Linked DNA regions of Homo sapiens. The protein of the gene in region 6 purifies or fractionates together with the protein of the main gene of each other region. This does not show direct contact. Each region holds a gene or a part of one and is shown on either strand. Other genes may lie near its edges.

Region 1 (4,963 bases), on a different chromosome or scaffold from region 6:
TTGAAATCAGTCTATAGATACATGTTCCTTGTACAGAAATAAACAGAGAGCTAATAATTAGTGAAACGTCTTTGGGTTATTCTTTGACATACATATTAATAACAGCCCCCTGAGGGAGGATTCTATTATTGTCTGCATTTTATAGATGAGAATGTGGAGGATCAGAGAGGTTAAATAACTTGCCCAAGGCCACACAGCTGGTAAGTGGGGAGAGAAGTATGCCCCAGGCAGCCCCACCTGTCCAGACTCCATGACCTAATGCTCCTTCCTTTCTCAGGCATAGCCCAGGAAGGGCAGCAGAACCACCCTGAAGTGGCTGGAGTGTGGGTCACACCATCTCTGCACTTCCCTGAGGTGATCTTGAGGAAGGATGGCTGATCCTATGCCTGCTTCTCACTCCCTGGGACTGCACTGAGGCCAGAGCCTGTACCCCTCATACTCAGATCACCCTCTGGAGCTCCTCAGGGCCTGCAGGAGAAGGTGCTGACTCCTCTGTGTTCAGACTCTACATCCAGCCCACCCCTCGCTGTCACACACTGTCCCCTCCAAGCACAGACCCTCTCTCTCCTGGCTCTCTGCCTGGCCGTTTTCCTTCACAAGGAACCAGAGAAAAACTCTTCCTTCCCAGAGACCCTTAGGACCCCACCAGAATCATCAGTTCATCCCGGTGGCCTTTGCTCTAACTTGCTGTGGGATCTCTAGATCCGTGTGACCCCATGCAGGGTCAGGGGCTCCCTGAGGAGTGGGGGCCAGCTAGGGTCCCTCCATAGCCCCATCCCCAAGGAAGGGGCTGAGAAGACAGGGTCCCAGGAGCCGCAGTGGCTTTTCCAAGGAAGGAGCTGACAAGATGCTCGCAGGAGCCCCAGTGGCTTTTCCTGGGGAAGGGGGTGTTTTCACAGTATGTGCACCTGCATTTGTGCATCACTGCACAAGCAACACACAAGTGGCTATGTCTTCACGTGTGGGAATGTGTGTCCACATCCACATGTGTGTGCTCATCTGCACCTGTGTGTCCATGAGTGTGCACACATGGAGGTGCCTGTGTGCACGTACAGTTGCATGCTCCTGAATTGAGGTATGTGTGTGCATCTGCATCTTTGTGTGGGGCTGTGGGTGCACCTGTGTGGCCAGGGTGTCGGAGTTGGGGTGTGTGGCTATGAGTGACCCTCCTTGGGGCCACTCCTTCCTGTAGCTATAAGTGCATAGTTACAGCTGAGAAAGGGCAACACTGACAGTCATAGAGGCCTGCGGATCTTAGGGTGCCCCTGCAGCATCCCTCCAAGTTCACCATGGCGAGGGAGGTGCACTGTACCTTTGACTGGAGCCACTACCTCAAAACCCTTCTGCCTGAAGCTCCAGCTGAGCCCCACCTCGGCCCTCTGCCACCAGCATCCATCAGCAGTCTTGGTGAGCAAACAAAGATGCCTCTTGGAGCTGCTGCCTAGGGGTGGGGTTGTTCAGTGGTGGGTGGGTGCGCCTACCCTGGGTAATCTCTGAACGGCAAGACCCTGGTTTTGGGGTCAGGCAGACTGCAGTTAAATATTAGCTCAGCTTCTTTCTGTGAACCTCAGTTTCTTCATCTGTCAAATAAGACAACAAACCCCTGGGTCATTAGAGGACTGAATGGGGTCAGGTTGCCACAGTAGATGCTCACTCACTGGGAGCTGCAGTGATTATGAAAATACTTATTATTATTACAAGTCCAAGGGTCTGCACCTGAGGAAGTGTCCTGAGGAGTGGGCTGACAAACTGGTTGAGAGCATAGTGCCCCAAGTCTGTGTAGGGTGTGGACGGCTACAGATGGAGCCGGGATGGGGGTGAGGGGATAGGGCAGGGCTGAGTGGCATGGGGGATATGCCCACTTAGGGTAACCAAGGGCTCTTCTGTGTGTGAAGCCATGGGGACATCCAGGGCTAGTACCTAGGATGAGGGCGATGAACACCTGCCCGAGGGACTGCATCTGTCCATTCACAGCCGCCTTGCCATCCCAGAGCTCTCGCCTCTGCCAGTGGGCTGCTGGGCCTCCCTGCTGCTGTAACCCAGCCAGCCCAGGGTCTCCTGCAGTGTCCCACCAGGGCTTCTCTTCTGCCTTCCTGGCCTGAGACATTGGTTTTGGTCATCCTTAAGGAGCCTCTTCTGGTAGAAGTGGTTGAGCTGGCTGCCCTGGGCTGGCTTCCCGGAGCAGATGGAGTCCTCAGACAGAGTCTTATCCTCTCAAGACCTGAGGCTGCCCACCCGGCCAGGCCGACACTGGGCTGTCATCCTATTGCTTGCCTGTCTTCTGCTGCCGCAGGGCCTGCAGGAAGACACTTTTCACCTGGCCCAGGATCTCATGGTACATCCGGAAGTCCTCCTCCTTTCCCCGCAGGGCACTGCCCAGGGCAGCCTTTAGCATTTCATTCTCCTCCACCTGGATGGCCAGCCTGGACCACAGGAGACAGTGCTCAGTGTGGCTGGAGCTGCACACAGGTGTGCGTGGGTGACAGAGGGCCCTGGGAATGTGGTTGCCAGCATGGCTGCTCTTCAGGCTCAGGCTTCCCTCTGACCCATCCCCTCCTCTCACTGACTCTTGTGGGTACCATGGATTCCTCTCTATGGGCCTGGCTCCCTGCAATGTAAGCTACCTCAAGGCCCCTTACAAATTGAGTTCCAATTTGTAGAGGTTCCCGTCTTTCCCTTCCCATGGCTGCGTGGGGTCTTAAAAGGTTTAACGTAGTGAGAAACTGGTTCAGTGATCCATGCTTGATAAAATTTCTCTTGGACTATGGGTCATTGGGGTTTGGGCCGGGCCCTCTGTCCTCTGAAGGCCAGTCCCTGAATTGCAGGCCTAGAACCCAGGACCAAACAGGACAAGCCTTCTGGGCAAATGAGTCAAAAGTGCAAGGGGAGGGACACAGTCCCTCTGCCCATGGAGGCACCTCTGCTCAGACAACCCTACCCTTTCAGGAAGGCGGGGCAGGGGAGCACCTGGTTGTCAGCTCTTCCATTTGGGATTCCACGGGCACATCGGAGAGCTGGGCAAAGGATGGGTCCTTCTTCTCGCTCCCGGTTGGGTTGTGCCTGTTGTTAGAGGTGGGCAGACCTGTGGGGCAGCAGCAACCACTTTCTGTGAGGAGGCCACAGCCCTGTGCTAGCACCCTGCTTCTCCTCCCGCCATTGCCCACTGCCTGCTCTTCCACATGGTGAAACGCTACACCGCCTTCGGGGTGCAGGGCAACTCTGAGCTCTGCCTCCCTCCGAAGCCCTCCCTGATGCCTCCTCTGCATGCCTCTGCCCCTGGCTTTGGCCTCTGCTACAGCCCTGACTCTGCTCGCTTTGTACCAGGGTGGTTCCTCACCACCCTGTCTCCATCTTTATACTTTACAAGTTTCTGGTAATTTGTTTTCTTTTTTTTTTCTTTTTTTTTTTTTTGAGACAGAGTCTTGCTCTGTCACCCAGACTGGAGTGCAGTAGCGTGATCTCAGCTCACAGCAATCTGCGCCTCCAGGGTTCAAGCGATTCTTGTGCCTCCCGAGTAGCTGGGACAACAGGTGCCTGTCACCATGCCCAGCTAATTATTGTATTTTTTGCAGAGACAGGGTTTTATCATGTTGGCTAGGCCTCCCAAAGTGCCAGGATTACAGGCGTAAACCACCATGCCCAGCCTGGTAATTTGTTTTCAAAAAGAGAAACCAGCTGAGCCTGAGGTCTGGCCTGCAGGCTGAGCCCGAGTCTAGACTGTCACTGTACCTGATGCCCTCATACCAGTGGTCCCCATCCAGGCCATCAGCTTCATACTAGGAAGCAGGGGATCCAGGGTCCTGGAGTTGAAGGGTACAGAATGTTCACAAAAAGGAGACAAAGTGGCCCACGGTGGGGTGGTCCCAGAACTTTGGGAGGCCAAGTGGGGGCAGATTGCTTGAGGTCAGGAGTTCAAGACCAGTCTGGCCAACACGGTGAAACCCTGTCTCTACTAAAAATACATAAAAATTAGCCAGGCATGGAGGCATGCACCTCAAGACTAGTCTTGTGTAAACCTGTCTCATTGCTGGGGAGGCAGCAGAGTGGCTCTGCCCTCTACAGGGGCTGGACTGAGTGTTCTTCAGGGCCTTTCCTGGCTCCAGGGGACACTGCTAAGCTGCCCTTGGCTTATTCCACGCATTGAGCACCTCCACATCCCCAACTAGAGCTGCCCTGGATGGGAAACTGCTTGTTCAGCCTGATGGAATTTTCTAAGCCCTGTGACACAGGGAATCAAAAAGAGCCTCAGCCGGGTGCGGTGGCTCATGCCTATAATCCCAGCACTTTGGGAGGTCTAGGGGGGTGGATAATTTGAGGTCAGGAGTTCAAGACCAGCCCGGCCAACATGGTAAAACACCATCATTACTAAAAATACATAAATTAGCAGGGTGTGGTGGCGAACCCCTGTAATCCTAGCTACTTGGGAGGCTGAGGCAGGGGAATTGCTTGAACCAGGGAGGTGGAGGTTGCAGTGAGCTGAGATCGCACCGCTGCATTCCAGCCTGAGGGACAGAGTGAGACTCTGTCTCCAAAAAAAAAAAAAAAAAAAAGACAAAGCTCAACTGGTGGTGGCGAACTTGGGCAAAATCACAGCATCAGAAAACCTCGGGACTGAAAAGGCCCTCAGAGGTGGTGTGACCCACAGTAAATTACTTGGTATCAGAAGACCTGGCTTTCGCCCTCTGCTGAGAGGCCTCAGGCAAACTATCAGCCTCTCTGAGCTGGTTTCCTTAGCTGAAAAAAAGGATAATAGTTTATGCCTCTAGAGCTTTGGCAGCCTCAGTGAATTCTATTTGGCTCTCAAGGCCCTGTGTGATTGGACCACTCCAGCCTCCCTGCCTCCTCCCTGTTCCTCCAAGCATCCAGCTAAGCTTCCAAGCACCGACACTTGTCTTTCCCTCAGGGATCGGCAGGCCACATCCCCTCCCAGTTCCTCCATCTCTGCTCAGATGTCTAGCTCCCC
Region 2 (4,963 bases), on a different chromosome or scaffold from region 6:
AGGACTACAGGCATGCACCACAACATCCAGCTAATTTTTTTCATTTTTCTAGAGATGGGGTCTCACTATGTTGCCCAGGCTGGTTTCAAACTTCTAGCCTCAAGCAATCCTCCTGTCTGGGCTTCCCAAAGCGCTAGGACATCTGCGTTATTTAGTGAGTTGGAAACGCATACTCATTCTGCTCTGTCCTGTCAGTGGCATTTGATTAGTGGTGTCACCTTTCTCCTTGGAGGGATGGCTCCTGGTCTAAATGTAATTTCATGTGGACCATGAAACATCAGTTGATACAGGGTTGATTTTGTCCTTGATAGATATTTTTACCTTTTTCATAATGAATCTCATGTCTAGATTTCTAAATAATAATGTCTTAAGCAGAAAAGACCCAGATTGGGTGGATGTAGTCAAAAGGTAGATTAAAACATGTAATTTGGAAATGAATTGCACCATATTGCTCTTGGTCATACTCTCCAAGGTTGTAGTTCTTTAAGCTTCTTCTTTCTTCAGCCAAGTGCTCAAACCTCTGGAGTGCTGACTTAGTTCTGGCCAGCTCTTAGAAAAACTGAACTCTGTGTGTGTGAATTTGGAGGGGTGACTGGAGCATATCCCTGAAAATCAAGAGCAGTGACCTCACTGGCCTGAACTGACTCCCTTTAAGGGCCTCACTTACATGGTAATTGCTGAAGATGATGCCATGGGAATCAACACCTCCCTTGGAAAAATGTCTCCTTGTTCACCTTCACTGCTTCTATTGTGTTTTCAGTCACCTTTGCCTAGCTTTTTTGTGGCATAAGTTTCTCTTGTGAATGCCTCACATTGAAATGAATGGATGTTTTTGATTGGGTCACAAGGAAGGGACCATTTAACCCAGCACTTAACCTTTGAAATAGTCTGACTATAAATCCTCTTACCAGCAGAAATGTCCTCAAAGGCACAATGTAGATGGCTTTCTCCCTAGCATTTCATATGTCCATAGGTTGTATGAGGGTATATGGCCTGGGGCCAATCTCAGAAAACCCCAGGTCTGTCATTTCTATGTTAGTACCTGTGTTTGTCTGTTTTGCATTGCTATAAAGGAATACCTGAGGCTGAGTAGTTTATAAAGAAAAGAGATTTATTTGACTCATAGTTCTATATGGCACTGGGATCTGCTCAGCTTCTGGTGAGGCCTCAGGAAGCTTTTACTCATGGCGGAAGGCAAGGGGACCTGGCATGTCACATGGCAAGAGAGGGAACAAGAAGGGAGGGAGATGACCTGCTCTTATAAACAACCAGGTCCCTCGTGAACTAATAGAGTGAGAACTCACTCATTACAGTGGTGAGAGCACCAAGCCTTTCATGAGAGTTCCTCCCCAATGACCCAAACACCTCCCACCAGGCCCACCTCCAACACTGGGGATCACATTTCAATATGAGATTTGGAGGGGGCACACATCCTTACTACATCAGAATCCAAGCTTTAGGACACCCTCCCTGCAAATTTAGTAGGTATGTTGTTCTTGAGGGCATAGGCTTCAGAGTCAGCCTGTCTAGATTCAAAACCTGGCTCAGATGCTCCCCCACTATGTAACTTTGGGCAAGTTGGTTAAGTTGTTTTATAATTTCTCCAAGCCTCATTTCTCTCATCTGTAAAGTGGAAATAATCATAGCGTCCCCTTTAAGTCTCATGATGAAAGGAGAGCCTTGGTGCAGTGCTAGCACATAGTAAACACTCCATAAATGTTAACTATTATTATTATTTTTTTTTTTGGTGCATCCTTGCTTTTTCCTTCCTACCTCTAGGGGGGACAGGGTGATATTGGAAGGATCATGGGTTGGGAGAGAGATTAAGTGGGTTTAAATCCTGGCCTTAAGCCATTTATTAGCTGTGTGGCCCTGGGCAAATTACTTAACCTCTCTGGACTTACTCCCACATCTATGAAGCCAGGATGTCACTCCTGACTAACAGAAGTGTTATAAGAATTAGAAGTAGGCTGGGTATGCTGGTTCGCACCTGTAATCCCAGCCCTTTGGGAGGCTAAGGTGGGAGTATAACTCGAGCTCAGGAGTTGGGAGACCAGCCTGGGCAACATAAAGAGACCCCACTTCTGCAAAAAAAATTTTTTTAATTAGCCAAAAGTAGTGGCGCACATATGTAGTCCCAGCTCTTTGGGAGGCTGAAGTGGGAGGATCCCTTGAGCCCAGAAGTTTAAGGCTGCGGTGAGCTATGATTACGCCACTGCATAACAGAGTGAGATCCTGCCTGTCTCTTAAAGGAAAAAAAAAAAAGGATTAGAAATAATCCTCACAGGATATGGAGAAAAGGGAACTCATACATTGTTGGTGGAAATTAAATTAATTACACTTATACCCAATAAATTTATACAAATTATATACAAAAATAACAAAAAAGAAATAGTTCTCACAAAGAACCTTTCACACTTATTTTGTACCCAGCACTCTATTGAGTGGTGAACGTGTATCACAATCCATAGACAGGAACTCTCATTACCATTGTGCCAATGAGTTCTTTCTGCATGTGTAATATTTTAAGAGGATAAGACCATACAGGGGAAGTCAACATATAAGGGAGGAAGCAGATGGTCTGTGTCAGGAACTGAGAAATACTCATGAATTTTTATTCAAATCCACTTCATTCTGGAAAATGTACTTACAATTTTTTAAGGTGCTCCAACTTGAGGAAATCATCACGTTTAATACTAGTGCTGGTTCTTTTTAAAGCTTAACTTGAAGTTTGCCCTATATACCAGGGTCTATAAATGTGTCTTGGTTTAATGAAACTGAGTTATTAAGAAGAGTCTTCTCTTATGTTCTCATGGCATAAATAACCATTCCTCCCTTTCAGGGCCAAATCATTGACTTCCAAGGGCTGCTCACAGATGCCATCAAGGGAGCAACCAGTGAACTTGCCTTGAACACCTTCGACCATAATCCAGACCCCTCAGTAAGTGGCGAAGATGTGACATTCATCTTTCAAATTGCCAACATCCAGATGAACTCTGGAAATATAATTTTGAGTACAGTGAAACCTTGAGATCAAGTTAAAGGCCATAGCCACCTGCCATCGTTTGTTTCACCAAGACCTGTGCATGCCCGGGGTTTCTTCCTAAATTATGAAGCAATATTGTAATGTGAGCCTTTCCGCTCCTCTCATCAGGAACGACTGCTGAAACCTCTGAGTGCATTTATTGGCATGAACAGTGAGATGCGAGAATTGGCAGCCGTGGTGAGCCGGGTAAGATCTGATATTCAATTCACAAATTTATGGAGGCAGGCTGGGGCTTCTGGAGCTTTGTGGGCTGCTTCTTTTATTAATAACAATAAATATGATCATTTATTTATAAAGTGCCCCCACTTGCGCAGGCACTCATATTGTTTAGAGGCACAATAATGCATGATAAATAAATTATAGAGTCATAAAATTACAATATACAAACCCCACCATCTCATGATAGAGGCCAAGAAAACCAAGAGAGAAAAAGACTTAGGAATGAAGGGACAGGTGAAAGGTTTTATAGCAGAGCCAAGAGTCAAGGAAAGAAAGCCTCTTAAAGAAGAAAAGAGTATGTCTGCATCTGGTTTAAAAAGTCAGAGCCTAGAAATAGAGACGTCGGGAGTCTGATGATATCATCATTGAAAATCTCCATGAAAAACACAATTAGCAGGAAAGACTACCATCCAGACTACGGACTTTTCCAGCTTGCACTGTGGAACCAGAAGGCAGTGAAGAACAGGCTTTGGAATTAGCTGACCTGCCTTTGATTTCTAGATCCTTCTCTTGCTAGCTGTGTGACTTTGGGCAAGTTCCTGGGAAATAAAATAGATTCCTGAGTTATAGGGTATTTTTCTAATTTCTATTGCTTCATATTTAATTGAAGACTGAAACCTAGGCAGGCTCAGAGGGGGGTTTAAAATGATCCCCAAAATTCACAGCTCCTCTGAGAAGCTAAGGGCTCCTGAGCTGTCTCTGTTCAGCTCAGCAGTTGTTTCCTGTATGCCTCTTGTGTGTCAGGTGTGTGCTGTGGGCTGGAGACACAAATGTGAACGAGTCAGAGCATAGTCCTTGCCCTCAAGAGTTTCTCATCCCAGGGACAAAGTGCACTTTAAGAGCATGAAGGAGGGAGGGGTGGGGAAAGTGTTAGGAAAGAAGACAGGAAATCGCTAAGGGAAAAAGTGGAAGAGGGAGGCTAGGAGCTGTTCTGGGCATAGGCACTTCCATGAGAAATTGCAGTTTGTGCACATGTCCTGTGGGCCACCTAAGAAGCAGGGAGTGGTGGGGAACGGGTGGAGAGAGGCAGGGTTCCTGAGGAAGGGTGCTGTGAGCAGTACCCAGGGCTGAGAACACACCTATAGAAGAGGGGACCTTAGAAAGGCGCCCGTCGGAGGATGGGATCATCCCATGTGCTTGTGGATGGCTTGTTCTATGACAGTGAGATGAATGAATAGCAAAGAAAAGGAGATGGGGAGACCATCTATAAGGTTTTTACCAGTGAGAGGGGATGAGGGACTGAGCCAGGCTGCAGTAACCCCAAATTAATAGTCTCATTACCATTTTTGCAAAAGGGTAACATGACTATGAGGATAGAACTATAGAGTGGAAATGGCCTGAGATGATTCCATCTGGAATCCTTTCTATAGTAGCATAGGAGGTAGAAACCCTGCTCCTGCTTGAATGCTTACAGTGACGGAGAGCTCACCACCTCATGAGGTAGTCCTGTTGAGTTCTGACTGTTAACTTTGGATTGATACAAGGAGAAACTGTCAGTTGGGAAATTAAACATTACCTTGTGGAACTCAACTCTAGAAGAGGTCAAGAAATACTGCTGTTATCTATGGATGCTTTTAATACCTAGGTAAATGAATCTTCCTTGTGTGCCGAGATTTCACTAAGAAAGGACGGTAATAAGAATGTGAGTGGCTGGTGGGCCTGCATGTAGATCCAGGCTCTATAGACAGAATAAGGAAG
Region 3 (4,963 bases), on a different chromosome or scaffold from region 6:
TCCACTTTCTTCCGCAGCAGAAGCATTTTAGGCACATTTCCCACTTCATCACACAGAGCTTTAAAGATCAAAATGTAATATAGTAATTGTTACTGTTTCATAAAGGATATTAAGTGACAATGACATAGGTTTATTTTTGTTCTTTCTCTAAGTGTGTGAAAGTAAATATGCAATGACTTTTATAGTATGGCTTGGAGCCATTATCCTTTTTTTTTATTTTTTTATTTTTTTTATTTTTTTAAAGACAGGGTCTCACGCCATTGCCAAGGCTGGAGTACAATGGCACAATCATGGCTCACTGCAGCCTCGACACTCCGTGCCTCAGGCAATTCTCCCACTTCAGTCTCCTGAGTAGCTGCGACTACAGACACGCACTACCATGCCTATTTAATTTTTTTGTATTTTTTGTAGACACAGGGTTTCATCATGTTACCTAGACTAGTCCCCTACTCCTGGACTCAAGCAATCCACCCACCTCGGCCTCCCAAATGGAGTCACTCACCATCTTAATTCACGCAGAGGTGATGGCAGTTTTATCCATCATTGCTTTTGCACCATTAATATAAATGTCAGCGCAGTGAATAAGGAGAATATCAAATTAGTGTAATTATGAAAATAGTTTTAAACTTGTGCACCTCTAAAAGGGTCTCAGTGACACGGTCACTACCATCACCCCCACCCCAGCATTCTGTGGCCCACACTTTGAGAATCACTGCTTTAAGGTATTCTCATTTAGGACCCACTGACAGCAGAATCCATGAGAAAAGTAAAAGTAATTAAAGTCCCCTAACTAGGGCTTTTGATGTACAAATACTAGACATTATAAAGACTTAGGATTTAGGACATTAGTTTATAAGTTTTTACAAGATCTAGGTAACTAGAAGATTTGGAACTCAAATGATTTATCATGCATGCTGTACATATCAGTAGACATCAGAAAAGCCTTTAAAACCACAATTTACCCCCCTGCCTCTTCTTTCTGTTTGCTGTGAGATACAGTCACAAAGACAACGGGGGGACAAATGAAAAATTACCGAAATAACACTACTACAATTTATTGGGGGCTTCCCATGTAAGCTCCCAATAAATGTACCTTGCAACACATTAACTCTCTTAATTCTCACAAAAACTCTATGATGTAGGTGTAATTATTACTCCCAATTTACAGATGTTAAGTAACTTATCCATGGTCATTCCAGTAGTAAATGGTAGAGCTCAAAAATGAATTCAGGTAGTTTGACCACAATGCTAGACAGAAGTTGTGAGAAGTATTTCAGCAATCTTGGACACATCGTTAATGACTGGTTGTTGGTGGAGTACCACATGATCATTCAAACACTCAAGCTTGTTTCTGTTGAAGAGGAGAGTCAGAAAAAGTAGAGCCTAAAAAGTCCCCAAACCAGTTAAGTCACACTGAGGCCAGAACTGTCATATAGTATACACACTCCAGGGACAAGAAATTCCGAGGGCTCAAACAGAAGACTCCTCAGAGTGGCTCAGCATGGTCTGTGATAAACAGACAGAAACACTATGAGGAAGTGCTCTTCACACTACACTCAGAGGTTTTCCCTCCCACTTACACATGATTGTTGCCATCTCAGACTTTTCATAGTAAGTTTTTTTGTTTCGTTTTGTTTTGTTTTTGAGACGGATTCTCACTCTGTCCCCCAGGCTGGAGTGCAGTGGCGTGATCTCAGCTCACTGCAACCTCCGCCTCCAAGACTCAAGTGATTCTCCTACCTCGGCCTCCCGAGTAGCTGGGATTACAGGTGCCTGCCACCACGCCTGGCAAATTTTTGTATTTTTTGTAGAGACAGGGTTTCGCCATGTTGGCCAGGCTGATCTCGAACTCCTGACCTCAAGCGATCTGCCCGCCTCGGCCTCCCAAAGTGCTGGGATCACAGGCATGAGCCACTGTGCCCAGTCCACAGTAAGTTGAAGAATTCAGTAACAGAATGATTTTTCCATGGTGATTCCACTATTCCTCCCCACAAACTATAAGGACATTAAACGTATGTACATACAGAATGTTAGCATAAAAGACAATAGAATCATATAACCTAACGGGATAGGAACTCAGCCTCTTCGTATTGCAAGACCTGGAGAGACTTCCTAGGTTCCTTGCCCAAGGGTTACGTAGCTAACTAACAGCAGAACCGAGGCCAGGTGGTGCCTCACGCCTATAATCCCAGCACTTTGGGAGGCCAAGGCAGGTGGATCACATGAGGTCAGGAGTTCGAGACCAGCCTAGCCTACATGACAAGACCCTGTCTCTACTAAAAATACAAAAAATTAGGTGGGCATGGTGGCGGGTGCCTATAATATCAGCTACTGGGGAGGCTGAGGCAGGAGAATCACTTGAACCCAGGAGGTGGAGGTTGCAGTGAGCCGAGATCGCACCATTGCACTCCAGCCTGGGTGACAAGAGTAAAAAACTGTCTCAAAAAAAAAAAAAAAAAAATAGCAGAACCCAATGCAACTTAATACCAATTCATTTCTTCAGCCACATCATTGTGCCATCTCAGAGGTAGCCTCATCTCCTTCAAGAGTTCATCTGAGAGTTTGTTCAGATGCATCAATATGATTCCTATTTAAAAAAAGATTTTTTGAGAGACAGGGTCTTGCTATGTTACTCAGGCTGATCTTGAACTCTTGGCCTCAAGTTATCCTCCCGCCTCAGCCTCCTGAGTAGCAAATCTGTATTTTTATTGATAAAGTATAAATGTATATATACCCACTACTGATAGCTGTTCTGCCTCAACCTGAAAAAGCACCCCCCAAAAAATCACAAAAACACTTTAAAAAGCTCACTATTGAGATTCAATATTAACTAATTTATCTATTTTGATTTTGCAAATACTCCAACGGTAAACAGATTGTACTTTCTCCTCAAAATATTTAAATCTGTGTTCCTCAAAGTGTGGTGGTACCACCAGCATCAAAATCACAGGGCACCTGTTAAAAATGCAGGCACATGGAGTCATCACCAAATCAACTAAACCAGTCTCTGAAGAAACTCCCAAGTTAGCATTTTAATAAGCTCTCTAGTGATTCTTATTTACACAAAACTTATTTATTGAACAGTCTACAATATCCTAGTGCAAAGTGAGACGGGCAAGTAAACAAAAATAAACATTTTGGATTTTAGCTGTGCTACAAAGAAAATAAGATGATCTATCAGAGAGCGACCTGGAGGACTACTTTAAAATGAGAAGTCAAAGTCTGAGGAGACATTTGAAGTGAGAGCCCTTCATTCAAGACAGTGGTTCTCAAACTTAAGCGTGAATCAGAATCACCTGGAGAGCTTGTTAAACGAGACTACTGGACAGGAGGTCCGGAATGCGGCCCAAGAATCTGTATTCCTAACAATGTCACAGATGATGCTGATGCTGTTGATCCAGGAACCACACTCTGAGAACTGTTGATCTAGAAAGAACAGCCAGAGGGTGTGAATAAATGTATTAAGAGAAACAGGAAAAGGCCAGTTAGGCAGGAGGGCATTATACTCATCATTGTTTCAAAATCACTTGAAAAAGATGGTGAGTTAAAACCACTAGCTATGATCTCCAGACCAGAGATGATATCTGAGGTTGATCAATAATATCCTGTATTGTTGAAGCATTTCTCAGTTACAAAGCATTTTCACATTTATTATTTGCCTTGGTGAGATATAAGTAAACGACTATCAGCTACATTTTAAAGGGAAACTGAAGGACAAAAACAGTATGAACTTCCTTTAGCGTAAAATAGCTAAAGAGCTGAACTATGTCCCCTAACACCCAATCTAGTGCTCTTTCCAGCACAGCTTGATCTTTTTAAAGAGCAAAGCAGAATGGTATATAGGAGTTAATACTGACAAATTATTTTCTAGACTATCTAAAAACACGGTGGATGGCTAGACACAGTGGCTCATGCCTGTAATCCCAGGACTTTGGGAGGCTGAGGCAGGCAGATCATTTGAAGCCAGGAGTTCAAGACCAGTCTGACCAGTATGGCAAAACCCCGTCTCTACTAAAAACAGAAAAATTAGCCAGGCGTGGTGATATGCGCCTGCAATCTCAGCTACTTGGGTGGCTGAGGCACAAGAATCGCTTGAACCTGGGAGGCAGAGGCTGCAGTAAGCCGAGATCGAGCCACTGCACTCCAGCCTGAGCAACAGAGCGAGACTGTCTCAAAAAAAAATTTTTTTTAATCAAAAACATGGTGGATTCCAGACTCAATTTGTTTTAGATATTGGTTAGAGAGAAATATTACTTAAGATTGACAGCATTTGGTTAGTCCCTTCCACTTACTCCCCCTCCTTCAAAAAGAAAGGATAAAGAAATGAAGAGGGGATTTACATATTATTCTCTCTCCTTCATAAATTTCAGAGAGCCAATTTCATAACCTCAGTCCCTCAGCCACATCAGTCAAACACAATCTGTATTTCTGGGTTCCCTCTAAATCTCTTACCTAACCCAGGTTCCCACAAGAACACTGAATCCTATGTGTCTTACTATGGTCATGGGTGCACAGACCACCAGCAGTTATTCTCTGAACACCTACTAACAATTAGTAGCTTCTCCAACAACCAAAGCCTTACTCTTAACATTCTTACCTACATGTACCAATAATGCTAGAAACCCAAAACATCCCAATCTGAAAACATTTTATCCTCCCTACACCCCAGCCCTCACCCTCACCCCAGCCCTGCTTCAGTGTCTGAATATGTATTAATAGCATTGCCATCCACCAAACAAAAAATGTGGAATTCTACGTTTGTCTCCCTCACACCAATCTCAATACACTCCCCCCATCCCTCCATTCCCATAGCCACTATTAGTTACTACTATTAATATACTAGCTACCATTTCATTAGTAACTACCACGTACTAATCACTTTACACATTTTATCTTACTTCATTCTCTCAATAACCCTATGAGGTTATATACTTTTTTCCCATTTCACAAATGAGAAAACTGA
Region 4 (4,963 bases), on a different chromosome or scaffold from region 6:
AAAGACCAGACGTGGTGGCTCATGCCTGTAATCCCAGCAGTTTGGGAGGTCAAGGTGGGTGGTGGATTGCTTGAGCGCAAGAGTTTGAGACCAGCCTGGGTAACATGGCAAGACCCTGTCTTTACTAAAAATACAAAAACTAGTAGGGCGTCATGGTGTGAGCCTGTAGTTCCAGCTAATTGGGAGGCTGAGGTGGAGGATTGCTTGAGCCCAGGAGGTTGAGGCTCCAGTGAGCCGCGATCAAGCCACTGCACTCCAGCCTGGGCGACAGAGACCCTGTCTCAAAATAAAAAAATAAAAAATAAGGCTTATTTGTACATCCCTTAAAATTAGTGCTATTATGCAACTTAGAAAATCTAGTATTCTTAAGTGAGACAAAGACAAAGGGGGAAGGTACTTAATTTGTTCATAAAATTATTGGTTTGTGTGTTTCTTTCTTGACAGGGAAATTGCAAAGAAGATTCTTTGGCAAGTTATGAATTGATATGCAGTTTACAGTCCTTAATCATTTCGGTTGAACAGCTCCAGGCTAGTTTTCTCTTAAATCCAGAGAAATATACTGATGAACTTGCCACTCAGCCAAGGCGACTGCTTAACACACTGAGGTATAGCCTATAATATAATTTTAGGGTTTCAATTTAGCTACTTGTTTATATCCTTGGAGGAGAATGACATGCGAAGAAACAGGAATAAAGGGCAAGGAAAGTAGAAACTCTAGGTCCACAGTCCTTTATATCCCAGAGACTCTGAATACTGGAAATTTTTTTCATAAATTTGGTGCTAAATTCGTTAGATCTGAACATATTATATGAGGCTTTTTATAGTCATTCATATTTATCTCTAACGTGAATATTCATACATGCTTCTATAGAAGTAGTAATGTGTTTAGTTATAGAGTACTCCCATATCAAGTCGGTGATAAATATTTTACTTATATGCCATATAATCATTGAATCTGAAAATGTCTGAATTTCTAAATGCGTGGTCCTAAGGATTTCACATTAAGAATTATAGGACTATATTCAAAATATGTGTAAGAACTGTAAATTCCAAATATTCTATTTTTATATGTGATTAGAGGAGAACTGTTGGCTAACTGGATTAGATTGCTTTTTGGTATTTTCTTAAAAATGAAACTTTACATATAAAATAGCCTTATTCAAATACAATTATAGGGCAAGTCTTTAAAACAATCACTTAAGCATTTAGTTTAAAAATAGAACTAGGTGCAATATATTGCTATACCTTAGTTAAGAGGTATTGTAGGCCGGTCACAGCTCACACTTGTAATCCCAGCACTTTGGGAGGTGAAGGTAGGTGGGTCATTTGAGGTCAGGAGTTCAAGACCAGTGTGGCCAACATGGTGAAACCCTGCCCCTACTAAAAATACAAAAATTAGCTGGGTGTGGTGGTTTGCACCTGTAGTCCCACCTACTCGGGAGACTGAGGCAGGAGAATCGCTTGAACCCGGGAGGCGGCGGTTGCAGTGAGCCAAGATTGCGCCATTGCAGTCCAGTCTGGGCAACAGATCAAGACCCTTGTCTCCAAAAAAAAAAAAAAAAAAAAGGCCATTGTAGCGTGGTGGCCAAGAGCGGGTTTGAATACTGGCTTTTCATCCTAAGTAGTTCTGTGACCTTGGGCAAGTTATTTAACCTGTCTGTGCCTTAGTGCTTGTATCTGTCAGTAATGGTGATAATAGTACCTCATAGGGTTATTGTGAAGATAATGTATACATAGGAGATAAAAAACATTTTGACTAAAACCTGGTGTATGGTAAGCATTATCTAAGTATTAGTTATTAATATATTTAGAAGAGGATCAAAGTATTATAATGAAAATAGGGTACAATTTACTCTTACTTTTAGTTACAGATAAGAAATTCCAAATTAGTGCTGAATAAATGTCTTGACATTTAAAAAATGAAATAATTTATGATTTTCCTTACATGAATTAATTTCTATATAGGCTTTATGTACTGTATCTTCAAAACTAGAATAGATGAAATGGAAATTTTTATTTATAGGGAACTCAACCCTATGTATGAAGGATATCTACAGCATGATGCACAGGAAGTATTACAATGTATTTTGGGAAACATTCAAGAAACATGCCAACTCCTAAAAAAAGAAGAAGTAAAAAATGTGGCAGAATTACCTACTAAGGTAGAAGAAATACCTCATCCGAAAGAGGAAATGAATGGTATTAACAGCATAGAGATGGACAGTATGAGGCATTCTGAAGACTTTAAAGAGAAACTCCCAAAAGGAAATGGGAAAAGAAAAAGTGACACTGAATTTGGTAACATGAAGAAAAAAGTTAAATTATCCAAGGAACACCAGTCATTGGAAGAGAACCAGAGACAAACTAGATCAAAAAGAAAAGCTACAAGTGATACATTAGAGAGTCCTCCTAAAATAATTCCCAAGTATATTTCTGAAAATGAGAGTCCAAGACCCTCACAAAAGAAATCAAGAGTTAAAATAAATTGGTTAAAGTCTGCAACTAAGCAACCCAGCATTCTTTCTAAATTTTGTAGTCTGGGAAAAATAACAACAAACCAAGGAGTCAAAGGACAATCTAAAGAAAATGAATGTGATCCTGAAGAGGACTTGGGGAAGTGTGAAAGTGATAACACAACTAATGGTTGTGGACTTGAATCTCCAGGAAATACTGTTACACCTGTAAATGTTAATGAAGTTAAACCCATAAACAAAGGTTAGTATAATTCTTAGACTTTGATAGGTAGAAGCATTAGCAGCTACAGAATTAGAATTTTCTCTTCCTAGATACATGTACAATATAATCTCTGGCTAAAATTGTTTCAAGAGAAGGAAATTTAACACTGAATGTGAACTATGGTGTTTTAAGTGCTATGCTTAGATTAGTGTGTGTGTATATATTGTATGCATATATATGTGTGTGTGTGTGTGTGTAATGTCATTAAAGTAATTTTAATTTATAGCTTATAAAGTAGGGAAGTTCGGCCAGGTATGTTAGCTCGCACCTGCAATCCCAGTACTTTGGGAGGCCTAGGCGGGCAGATCACCTGCGGTCAGGAGTTCAAGAGCAGCCTGGTCAACATGGTGAAACCCCGTCTCTACTAAAAATGCAAAAATTAGCCAGGCATGGTGGCGCACGCCTGTAGTCCCAGCTACTTGAGAGGCTGAGGCAGGAGAATCGCCTGAACCCGGGAGGTGGAGGTTGCAGTGAGCCAATATTATGCCACTGCACTCCAGCCTGGGGCGACAGAGCAAGACTCCGTCTCAAAAAAAAACAAATAATAATAAAGTAGGGAAGTTCAGTATATTTTAATGTACATTTAAGAGTACATTTCCCTTTATGCAGTGTTTGACATAAACTGATGAAGGACATTGCATTTAGTGAAATTTTAAAAGTAAAGACTAAGTACAGTCATGTGTTGCTTAACAACAGGGATATGTTCTGAGAAATGTGCTGTTTCATTGTGTGAATTTCACGGTGTACTTACACAACTAGATGCTAGAGCGTACTACACAACTAGCCTATATGGTATAGACCAGGGTATCTAATCTTTTGGCTTCCTTGGGCCACACTGGAAGAAGTGTCTTGGGCCACACCACACAGAATACACTAATGATAGCTGATGAGCCAAAAAAAAAAAAATCAAAAAAGTCTCATAATGTTTTAAGAAAGTTTATGAATTTGTTACGGGCTACAGGCAAGCTTTGCATGGCCTATTGCTCCTAGGCAACAAACCTGTATAGCATATAACTACTGAATACTGTAGGCAACTGTAGCACAATGGTATTTGTGTATCTAAGACGTATCTAAGCATAGATATGTAAACATAGGTACAGTAAAAATAATCATAGACTACTGTCATATGCGGTCCATTGTTAAATAATTGAAACGTTGGTAGGTGGTGCATAACTGTAAGTTACACGATACTTGAACTAGATTTTTACCTAGTTTTGTCCAGATCTACAGATATCAGGGAAAATGTGTAATATTGATATAGTGAATAGTTTTACCAAAAATGTCATCCTTATTCTGGGTTTATTCTATGGGGAGGTGTCTGTAGGAAGGGAGTTACAATACAACTGACTTTTTTTTATTTTTTATTTTTTTTATTTTTTTGGAGACAGAGTTTTGCTCTTGTTGCCCAGGCTAGAGTGCAATGGCATGATCTTGGCTCACTGCAACCTCCACCTCCCGGGTTCAAGCGATCCTCCTGCCTCAGCCTCCCGAGTAGCTGTGATTACAGGCATGCACCACCACACCCGGCTAATTTTGTATTTTTACTGGAGACAGGGTTTCTCCATGTTGGTCAGGCTGGTCTTGAACTCCGACCTCAGGTGATCTGCCCGCCTCAGCCTCCCAAAGTCTTGGGATTACAGGCTTAAGCCACTGTGCCCGGCCTACAACTGACTTCTTTTAAAGACAGTAATTTCATAGTCAGTTTTATCTTTACAGGGACCTTAAATTTCATTAATAGGGTACCTCTAATAAGCTAATAATGCTAATAAGCTGATCTATGAAAATGGAACTGTTATTCATGATATACTTTATTTAAATGGAAAATTGGTTATTTGGACTATAATGAGAAACTAATCTGTATAGACTTACATTTTCCTATTTTCATTTTAGGTGAAGAACAAATTGGTTTTGAGCTAGTGGAGAAATTATTTCAAGGTCAGCTGGTATTAAGGACGCGTTGCTTGGAATGTGAAAGTTTAACAGAAAGAAGAGAAGATTTTCAAGACATCAGTGTGCCAGTACAAGAAGATGAGCTTTCCAAAGTAGAGGAGAGTTCTGAAAGTAAGCAAAATTGGAGTCTTGTGTGGACCATGATGGAATATTTATAATTCTTTAACAACACAAAGTTTAATAGTAGCTGGTGTAATTAGGGAGGGGAAAAAAGCTAGCTTTTAGTGTCTAATGTAACCTTTCTGCTTATCTGGCTTCACTTATAAATGGTTAGCAT
Region 5 (4,963 bases), on a different chromosome or scaffold from region 6:
CTGTGTCAGATGCTAGATCCATATCAGAAAGGAATCTAAACCCAACCTAATGATGCAGCAGCACCTACTGTTAGAAGCACATAAGTTTACTAGTCATTAAAAATCATTAAAAAATGCTTATTTTTAACAGTATTAAAACAGAACATGAGTCACATGTTTCTAAAGACTTACAGCCAATTTCTCTTCCTCTTCATTTTCACTGTGCCATTCCGATTCCGCATCTGTTGGTTCAACATCGCCGGTGATAAATTCTCTTCTCTACATAAAAATGAGACCTTATTAGAATTATGTTATTAGCTTACTTAGGAACTCAAGAGTTAAATTTATAAATAATGTCTACTAAAAGACTTTGAAAACTGGATATTTTTATAACTTATTTTAAGATTCTAAATTTTAGGGTTCAAAGAAAAATATTAAATGATTCCCTGGGTAAACCTGGATGTTTCACCTAAAGATGTAAAATAAAGACAGTCCCCGATTTCCAATGGTTCAGCTAAAGATTTTCAACTTCCTGATGGTGCAGAAGCCATCACACTTTGGGCACCAATACAGCCACACTGTGTTCCTCTCTCTGTGTAGGGTTCAATACATTACGCGAGATACTCAGCACTTTATTATAAAATAGGCTTTGTGGAAGATGATTTTGCCTGACTGCAGGCTAATGTTAGCGTTCTGAGCTTGTTTAAGGTAGTCTAGACTAAGCTATGTTTGGCAGGTTAGATGCGTTCTTACCCTAGATGTTGTCAACTTATAATGGGTTTATCGGAACCTAACACCTTCGTAAGCTGAAAACTATCTGTATATTAAATTAACAGAGCTCCCTACCTTGTCAAAGAGAGGCTGGTATAGCGCTGCATACTTTCTTTCCAAGTCATGTACCTCTTCATAGAACTTGGCTTCTATGTGAGCACATCTCACCTGAAGTTGTTTCAATGCATTAATTCTTCTTTTTACTGCTTTAGGTAAACTAAAAAAGGGAGTAAGAAATACAACATCCTCATGCCTGCAAAATAAAGCAGCATGCTTTTCAATTTTATTAAAATAAATTTAGGTTAACATGGAATCAACATCCTTACTATGAACAAGACCTCTTAAAAATTAAGAAAAGGACAATACCCCAACAGGAAAAAAAGGATACAGGAGGAAGCAGAAAAAATAATTCACAAAAGAAAAAACACAAATTGTCAAACATGAAGAAAGATTCAATTTCATAAAATATCCAAAAGAATGCAAACATTTAAGAACACTCAGCTTTTCCTTACCAAATTGGCAATTAAAAACCAAAACAAAACACCCAGGTTTTACGAGGCTAAGGGCCAAGAAGCCCTCTAACTGACTCATCTTTCTGAAGGGCAGAAATATTGAAAATGTTCTTTGGACCCAGTAATTCTATTTCTAAGAATTTATCCTTAAGGCTGGGCGCAGTGGCTCATGCCTGTAATCCCACCACTCTGGGAGGCCAAGGTAGGATTGCTTGAGGGCAGGACTCCAAGACCAGCCTGAGCAATACAGCAAGACCTCTCTCTACAAAAAAATTTTAAAAAATTAGCAAGGCATGATGGTGTGCGCCTGTAGTCCCAGCTACTCAGGAGGCTGAGGTGGGAGGATCACTTGAGTCTGTGAGGTCAAGGCAGCAGGGAGCTATGATTGCGCTACTGCACTCCAGCCTGGGAAACAGAGCAAGACCCTATCTTACCAAAAGGAAAAAAAAAAATTTATCCTAATCAAGTATTTATGCTGGAGTGTCCGTCGATAGATCTGTACAAGTGAAAAACTGGACAATGCAAGTGCAACAGCATTCAAATATGGCCTATTCATAATCACACTGTCCAGGAATATTTAGTGCCACGTGGGAATCCACACTTGTTAACACACTGGAGGAAAAAATCTGAGAAACACAGACCACAGGCAACACAACTTTGTCCTGGAGAGTCAGGTCAACTATGAGTTTGCCTTTCAATTCTGTTCTATGTTTTAAAAAATAGTTGTTATGTATAACTTTTATAAATCAGAAGAAAAATCCTTGTTTAACCCATCAAAACTATTTGTTCAAAACGAAGCCCCTGGTCACAATCATGTGGACTGAACAGCAGATTCCTGGCCTCATCATAGACCCAAATAATCTACCTGGGGCAGGGCCCTGGGTCCTGCATCTTGAATACTCATTCACACAATCAGAGTCTTCAAGTCTAAGCACTTGACTTACCCTCCAACAACAGACAGCACAGAGCAGTAGGCAAGTCACACACACATATCACTGGTCTGGGAGGTATTAGAACAACTGCCTTGCATCCCAAAGGACCACTCTCCTGGGTGAAATACAACCACAGCTACCTCAAGCTAAAGGTCCTTAGTTTAAGCAAAGACTCTCAAATAATGCTTAACATTCTAGAACTACTGCTAGTAGTAGATGAAAAAAAGGGAAAAGCAGAAAGAATTTAACAAAATGGTAGACTCCCACTGCCATTTTTACCCCTTTTCTGCACTGGTCATTCATTCATTCATTTATTGTGACAGGATCTCACTCTGTTGCCCAGGCTGCAGTGCACTGGTGCGATCTCGGCTCACTGTAGCCTCAACTTTCTGGGCTCAAATGATACTCCCACCTCAGCATCCTGAATAGTTGGACTACAGGGGCACATCACCATGCCCAGCTAATTTTTTTGCATCCTGTAGAGTAGGGGTTTGACCATGTTGCCCAGGCTGGTCTCGAACTCCTGAGCTCAAGCAATCTGCCTGCCTCGGCCTCCCAAAGTGCTAGGATTACAGGTGTGAGCTACCATGCCTGGCTAATTATACAATTTTAAATTAGTTTAATTTTTGAAGCTTTCCAACTGAAGTAAAATGACAAAGGATTTTTTTTTTTAATTATACTTTAAGTTTTAGGGTACAAATGCACAACGTGCAGGTTTGTTACATACGTATGCATGTGCCATGTTGGTGTGCTGCACCCATTAACTCGTCATTTAGACAAAGGATGTTAAACAAACTGGACCCTAGTGTGCCCCCAACAGTCCTTCAATCATTCACACCAACTACACCCAGCCCTCTGCCGGCACTTTTCCTGCAATATGGCTAATATGGAACCACTTCTAGTCCCACATAAACCTGATCCCACTCAAGCAGTTCCTCTCACAGAATGCCACCCCACCAACCCAGTTTCTAAAGCGAGAAAACTAGAAACCATTACTCATTCTCATTCTTGCCACTCCCACTCAGTATCACCCCATCCCATCAATCTAGTCTGCAAAAAAAATAACATCAAAACACCTTGCCCACTAAGTAATCTCTGAGAAGCTTCTAAATGGGCAAAGCAAACTCTGAATGTCACCTTCTAGGCCAGGCGCAGTGGCTCATGCCTATAATCCCAGCACTTTGGGAGGCCAAGGTGGGCAGATCACCTGAGGTCAGGAGCTGGAGATCAGCCTGGCCAACATGGCAAATCCCTGTCTCTACTAAAAATACAAAAACAAAACAAAACAAAACAAACAAAAAAACACGTGCAGCAAATCACCATGGCACATGTATACCTATGTAACAAACCTGAACACTCAGCACATCTACTCCAGAACGTACAGTGAAATAAATAAAACTACAAAAAACTAGCTGGGAGTGGTGGCGTGCACCTGCAATTCCAGCTACTCAGGAGGCTGAGGCAGGAGAATCACTTGAACCCGGGAGGCGGAAGTTGCACTCCAGCCTGGATGACAGAGCAAGAGTCTGTCTCAAAAAATAAAAATAAAAAATAAATGTCCCCTTCTTGTCGTAATAGCCCTGGCAGTCCTGACTGGGGAAACCAGCTGGAAGGTGGGGCCTCCTGGGAGACCAAGCCCTGACCCAATTATAGATGGAAGCCCAGTAACAGCTCATCCCTTTAAAAAAAAAAAAAAAAATTGCCATGCATGGTGGTGCATGCCTATAGTTCCAACTACTCTGGAGGCTGAGGTAGAAGGATTACTTGAGCTCAGGAGTTCAAGGTTACAATGAACTATTACATGCCACTGCACTCCAGCCTGAACAACAGTGAGACTCCAACTCAAAAACCAAAAATTCCTTCCAGAAGTAAGAGAGGTCCTGACAAGAGCCATCCTAGGATTCTAGGATCACCACCCTTATCATTTTCATAGTGCAATACATCTAGCACATAGGCCTCTCTTAAGAAAGCAAAGGTGTCAGCCAGGCACGGTAGCTCACCCGTTATCCCAGCATTTTGAGAGGCTGAGGCGGGAGAACCAATTGAGGCCATGAGTTCAAAACCAGCCTAGGAAATACAGTGAGACCCCATCTTTTTTTTTTTCTTAAAGACAGTCTCACTGTCACCCAGGCTGGAGGGTAGTGAAAACTCATAGGCATGCGGCACTATGCCCAGTTTTTTTTTTTTAAGGTGTTGGTGTCACAGGCTCATGTGGGTAAGTCAGGAAGGAGTGGTTCTCTTAGTTTAACTTAGGAGCCACCAGCTGTCCTCTCCAACTCAGATGATCTGTGAAGTCCTCTAGCCCTCCACAGGATGGCACTGTGCACTTCCTATCAGAACTGACAGGTCACGCTACTCCATCCACCAGGCAAACTCTCAGCCTAGGCACCGGGTAGGGTCACTCCTCTCATATCCCAGTGCCTGTCTCTCATAGACAATGTCTTGGAACGAAAAAAACATTTAATCCTGTTCTGGGGAACTGAAAAGTGGTTTTTCCTTTATTTTCCTTTTGTTTCTCCAAATTGCATGAGACCCTATTCACAGCACACTTACGTTTCGATGTAGCTGGAAGGGGTGTGAGGGACATTGTCAAGTCGCTCCTGTAAAGCTGCCAGAACTCGAGGATTCTGCATCACCTGATCTGTGAGCTTTTCTATGAAGAGTTAAGACCAAACATATTTAAAATATGCCCACCACACACAATAGCCAAGAGTCAAAAATTAGTAACATATCTACTTAGCTTTGCCTAGATTTACATCTACTAATTTC
Region 6 (4,963 bases):
GACACAAACAAATGCATAATTACAAATTGTGAGGAGTGCTATAAAGGTGCAGTGGTCACTGTGGTTGTCTCCCCGAAATACCCCTTGTCACACCCTACCCTCCACCATATATTATATTTGATGGGACTGACTTCAGCTCCAGAACTAGATCCTTACTAGTCTTGGCCAGGGGTCCTCAAACTTTAACATGTGCCAGAATCACCTGGAAGGCTTGTTAAACCACAGATGAGTGGGCCCCACTCCATGCACAGAGCACAGAGATTCTTATTCAGTAGGTCTGGGGTGGGGCCAGAAAAACTCCATTTCTAACAAGTGCCCAGGTCATGCTGCTCCATAAACCACACTTTGAGAATCACTGATCTTGGGTGATCAAGGCAATCCCATTCTCCTGATGCAGTGTTAGTTCAGAGACAGGCAGACCCAGGCCATTTTTTCAATAAGAGACATTCTCTGCCACAGGGATAGATTGAGAGGTGTGCATGAGATGCAACTCGAGCCAGAAACCTGAGGAGGTACTTAATGACAAGCTTGCTGGAGGCTCCAGGGAAAGAAATTCCCTCATTCTCATCACAAAACTCCTAGAAGCAACTCTATTCTTCCTCTGAGTATCATGCTGAGCTAGAGGTGAACATGTTACAGCCATTTGATTACCATCCGAAAAATGCACTGAGGATAAAGTCATGGCACAGAATGTAGCTGATGGAACCTCAGAGAAATGGAGTTGAAGACACTGGAAAAAGATGACCCTTTACGTGCCTTACCTGCAGACCTCTAATAACATAGGCATACTTGTGTCCTTACTGTTTAAAGGCAGGTTAAGTCAGGCCTTCTTTTACTTGCAAACAAAGGCATTTTGATACAGAAAAAAGGTAGAGAGCATGAGCGGGCAGGCTAAAGATGTCAGGAAAGCTGCCTGAGGGAGAGTGGTCTTGGAAGGCCTGGGAGGAAATGCCATTAAAACTGAGGCTGCATGGATAAATATGAGTTGGGCAGGTGAAGAATGAGAGGAAAAGGTTCTAGGGAGGGAAAACAGCATATTCAATGGCCCCACAGTGAAAAGGAGCTCAGTGTTTTTGAGTAAGTGGAAGGGGCCAGGGTGGTGTGGGGAGCAAGTGGTGTAAAAGAGGCTTTGTTGAGGAAAACAGGCGCCTTGCAGGTCACACAGGTCCTGGTGCCACACAGTAGGGATTTCTTTCACAGCTGAATCAGGAGCCATTGAAAAGCTTTAAGCAGGAGTGTTACATCAGTTTATTCTTTAAAAGACTGTTCTGTCAGTTAAATTGAGATGGTTGGAATGGAGATGAGAAAAAGCAAGGAGGCTATTTAGGAGGCTATAACAGTGGTCCAGGCACAAAATCATCATTCTGTTCTAGGTAGAAATAGTAAAATGTGGACAAATTCAAGAAATATCTATGATGAGGATTGAAAGGCATCAGCAATGGGTCAGCTATTGCAGAGAAGGGAAGGAGGGAAAGGAGCAAGGATGACTTCCAAAAGGGTCAACAAAGGAGTGACAGTGAAATGGTGACAAATACTGAGAATTTTTAAAGAGGATTTTTTTTAAAAATTGGGAAAGTGTGCTATGACAAAGTCAAGGGAGGCTCATTTCAAGAAGGAAAATGTAGCTAAAAGCCTCACCATTGTAGAGATGGAGTGAGATGAAAACTGTAGACTCCACTGAACACAGTTGTGAGGATGTCAGTCTACTGGGAGGTGGAAACATTTAGGTTTGGGGGAGGCAGCAGAGGGAGAAAGGTTAAGGGAGAACAGATGAGATTCTTCTTTGAACAGCTCATCATGAAGGAGAGCATGGTGGTTCAGCCTCTCTTCAATGACTTTCTCATGTCTACCAGCATTTTGTTTCACTGATTTTCTCTATTGCTTATCTGTTTTTGGTTTCATTGGTTTCTGCTTTTATTTGCTTGCTTTGGGTTTACTTTGCTTTCCTACTGCACTTGACAAGTCTTAAAAAAAAAAAAAAAAAAAAAGGACAATGCCAAAAATTGCATTGCAATCCACTGCTGGTGGGAAAGTAAAATGGCACAATTTGGAAAATTGAGTGTGGCAATGGGTGAAGGTACAAATGACGCAAAAATAGGAGAATGCTGGCAACTATTAAAATTGGTGTTGTGGTTTATTACACTAGTCTACTTACTTTGTATATTCTTTAAATTTCCATAACAAAATATGAAAAAGTTAATAAAACTTTTTAAAGTTCTTAAACTTGAAACCCGCTTTCTTTGCCCAAAATTATAATTTGAGGAGATAAATACTGTACAAAACATTTATATAGGCCAGGCGCCATGGCTCATGCCTGTAATCCCAGCACTTTGGGAGGCCAAGGCACGTAGATCATGAGGTCAGGAGTTCGAGATCAGACTGAACAACATGGTGAAACCCCGTCTCTACTAAAAGTACAAAAATTAGCTGGGTGTGGTGGCGTGCACCTGTAATCCCAGCTACTCAGGAGGCTGAGGCAGGACACTCGCTTGAACCCAGGAGGTGGAGGTTGCAGTGAGCTGAGATCGCGCCACTGCACTCCACCCTGGCGACAGAGCGAGACTCTGTCTCAAAGAAAGAAAAAACAAAACCGACATTTATATAATATAAATTGGCTGCATTTTCAGATTAGTGTAGTGATTTAATGGGTTATCTCAGATCTAATGAGTTGTCAGTGAGTGATCCTGAAAGTCCACATATGCATCTGTGATTTTTACACACAAATATGAATGCAATTTCCAATTTTCAGTTAATTTATTGTTCTCTACCCCAAAGCCAACTGCTAGTGCTTGTAAGAGAGGAGACTATATATTTAAGAGGTTTTGTTTTAAAAAAAATTCTAGTTTTTCACTAAAAAATAAACACATTTTTGATAAATCTGTGTGGCAAGTCAAATTCAATGGAGGCTGACAGCAATGCTGGAAACCACCAAATGCGCTAAAGAGCAACAAGGCAATCAGGGCCCTGTTTTAGAGAATGTTCTAATCACTGCCAAAGTTCCATACATTATATGAAATGTGCAAATCAGGGAATCTGCAAAGATTTAAGGAAGTATTTATTATCAATAGCAAAGGTCTGCCATAGGTGATCAAATGTTAAATTGAATAAAAACGAAACACGAAAACCTTTGAAATAACATGTTTTTCCCCAAAAATGAGGATAAAAATGACTATCCAAAAAATTATGAAGCTATATGATCTTTGAATCTGAACAGGAAATGACAAATACAATGCAGCTTTTAAATATAAACATGGAGAGTCTGAAATCAGGCTTTCCAAGTATATCCCTCACAACTTGGTTTACAATTTAATTTTTTTCAGAAATTTATTTCCTAGTGTTACAGGTGGATAGTTTTAAACTCAATTATATTCAAACGCTTAGGGTCTATTGATTACTAATAGTTTTCACTAATCAAAGCAAGAATTGTTTCTACTACTATTACTAAGGTTAGTATTAACCCAAAGCAAGCAACTGTCAGATATTTACTGGGAGCATTTGAATGAACTAAAAAGAATGAAAAGATCAAGGAGTCTACTCCTGAAAATCAGTTTCAGGTGTATTTAACACACAGATACATTTCCATAAATCTAAAGGCCCCATCGCTTGCCTCATGTAAGTCAGAATCACTTCTACACTGTTAACGAGTAACTACAATTTCCTTGCAATCACAAATCCTGCTGATAGAAAGCCACCACTGTGACATCACATAGCTGTGCGGTCCCAGGTTTTCAAAACTGAGTTGGTACAACAAGCTCACTCAGCAAGCACACGTCAACTTCTACATGTACATGTGGTGCCAGTACAAAAACAGGATGGCTGCTGGCCTCAGGAAGGCAACAGGCCACACCCCTAGGAAACAGGAGACAGAGGCACTGGAAAGGAAATGTGACCTGATGCTAGGGAAGAGAGAACAAGGTCCTGAGCACCAAGTGGTATTTAAAATGCTATAAATATTATCTGCCTGGGTCAGATGTATTTTACTAAAGAAGCTAAAGTAGATAATCAAAGTCTAATTCATCTAGCTGGAAACGTTAAATCTATAGCCATTCTTGCTTATACTCAGATTTATCTTGCTTACCAATGAAAAAACAAAGTTACAACAGAAAAGCCTGAACCGAATGTATCTCAAAAGCACAAGAGCGCTATGCTACAATGCTACTATTACCTTGTAGCCACTGGTCCAGGGTATTATCAATGGTGCACTTCACAACAGGGAGGAATTCCGAGTTCATAAAGAGCCCCCGCTTAGGGTGGTTCTGCAGCCGCTCCTGATGGCTTCGGGAGCTGAAAAACTCTAACACCAACTTTATCTGCCAAAGTTCAGAAGTCTCAGACATTTCTCTTCTCCCAAGTCTTCTTATAGCCTTGAAGAGGAAAGAGGACAACAATCTATTTAATCAAAGAGTGCTCTGTCTCTTCATCAGAGTTGTAGACTGAGTATTTTTTAAATGTGGCTCCGAATTATAAAGGGTCGGGGGGTGGTCCATTCTGTGTTTTGATGCAGTCTGCCCACAGAGGAGCCGTCACTGGGTACAGGTGCATGGCTCACCTCCTTCAATATGGCCCTACATGAGCAGCTTGCAGGGAAAAGTAACAAAGGTGAATGAGCTCATTCTTGGCTCAACAGCTCCGAATAACCAAGACCCAAAAGGTCATAGCCAGTCACCTCTGGGAAACTCGAGCTGGGTACAATGACATGGCAGAGATCCCAGGGGGTAGAGGGCAAGAAGAACACTACTAATAATACTGCCCTTGAGATCCATCTGCAAGTCACTACAGCTGCAACCAGAGAAGATATTCATGCATAAAGACCTGCCACCCATGACTGTAAAGGTGTGAGGGTTCAGAGAGTAAAAAGACACATTCTCAGCCAGCAACATTCTCATCCAGCAAATAACACAACTTGTTATTTGGCTGCTATACAAAGAGGCACTGTGAGAAGCAGTGCCAGCGTGGATACCAT

Evidence for each region.
Region 1: the proteins of ANAPC1 (region 6) and CCDC13 purify together in Homo sapiens (co-immunoprecipitation; one study listed by IntAct). This does not show direct contact.
Region 2: the proteins of ANAPC1 (region 6) and KATNAL2 purify together in Homo sapiens (tandem affinity purification; one large-scale study listed by IntAct). This does not show direct contact.
Region 3: the proteins of ANAPC1 (region 6) and TRIM33 purify together in Homo sapiens (affinity purification with western blotting; 2 studies listed by BioGRID, with this or other methods). This does not show direct contact.
Region 4: the proteins of ANAPC1 (region 6) and USP1 purify together in Homo sapiens (affinity purification with western blotting, with the first as the bait; one study listed by BioGRID). This does not show direct contact.
Region 5: the proteins of ANAPC1 (region 6) and NAP1L4 fractionate together in Homo sapiens (co-fractionation; one large-scale study listed by BioGRID). This does not show direct contact.

What each region holds. Positions count from the first base shown.
Region 1 is NC_000003.12:42,706,717-42,711,679, forward strand, and holds part of CCDC13 (coiled-coil domain-containing protein 13), read right to left. Parts: intron 3,083-4,963; coding exon 2,968-3,082; intron 2,424-2,967; coding exon 2,264-2,423; 3' UTR 1-2,263. UniProt on the Homo sapiens protein: Required for primary cilia formation and promotes the localization of the ciliopathy protein BBS4 to both centriolar satellites and cilia.
Region 2 is NC_000018.10:47,060,130-47,065,092, forward strand, and holds part of KATNAL2 (katanin p60 ATPase-containing subunit A-like 2), read left to right. Parts: intron 1-2,842; coding exon 2,843-2,941; intron 2,942-3,154; coding exon 3,155-3,232; intron 3,233-4,963.
Region 3 is NC_000001.11:114,503,942-114,508,904, forward strand, and holds part of TRIM33 (E3 ubiquitin-protein ligase TRIM33), read right to left. Parts: intron 1-4,963. UniProt on the Homo sapiens protein: Acts as an E3 ubiquitin-protein ligase. Promotes SMAD4 ubiquitination, nuclear exclusion and degradation via the ubiquitin proteasome pathway. According to PubMed:16751102, does not promote a decrease in the level of endogenous SMAD4.
Region 4 is NC_000001.11:62,442,715-62,447,677, forward strand, and holds part of USP1 (ubiquitin carboxyl-terminal hydrolase 1), read left to right. Parts: intron 1-444; coding exon 445-605; intron 606-2,023; coding exon 2,024-2,715; intron 2,716-4,626; coding exon 4,627-4,797; intron 4,798-4,963. UniProt on the Homo sapiens protein: Negative regulator of DNA damage repair which specifically deubiquitinates monoubiquitinated FANCD2. Also involved in PCNA-mediated translesion synthesis (TLS) by deubiquitinating monoubiquitinated PCNA.
Region 5 is NC_000011.10:2,971,277-2,976,239, forward strand, and holds part of NAP1L4 (nucleosome assembly protein 1-like 4), read right to left. Parts: intron 4,848-4,963; coding exon 4,748-4,847; intron 968-4,747; coding exon 826-967; intron 259-825; coding exon 172-258; intron 1-171. UniProt on the Homo sapiens protein: Acts as a histone chaperone in nucleosome assembly.
Region 6 is NC_000002.12:111,772,694-111,777,656, forward strand, and holds part of ANAPC1 (anaphase-promoting complex subunit 1), read right to left. Parts: intron 4,365-4,963; coding exon 4,166-4,364; intron 1-4,165. UniProt on the Homo sapiens protein: Component of the anaphase promoting complex/cyclosome (APC/C), a cell cycle-regulated E3 ubiquitin ligase that controls progression through mitosis and the G1 phase of the cell cycle.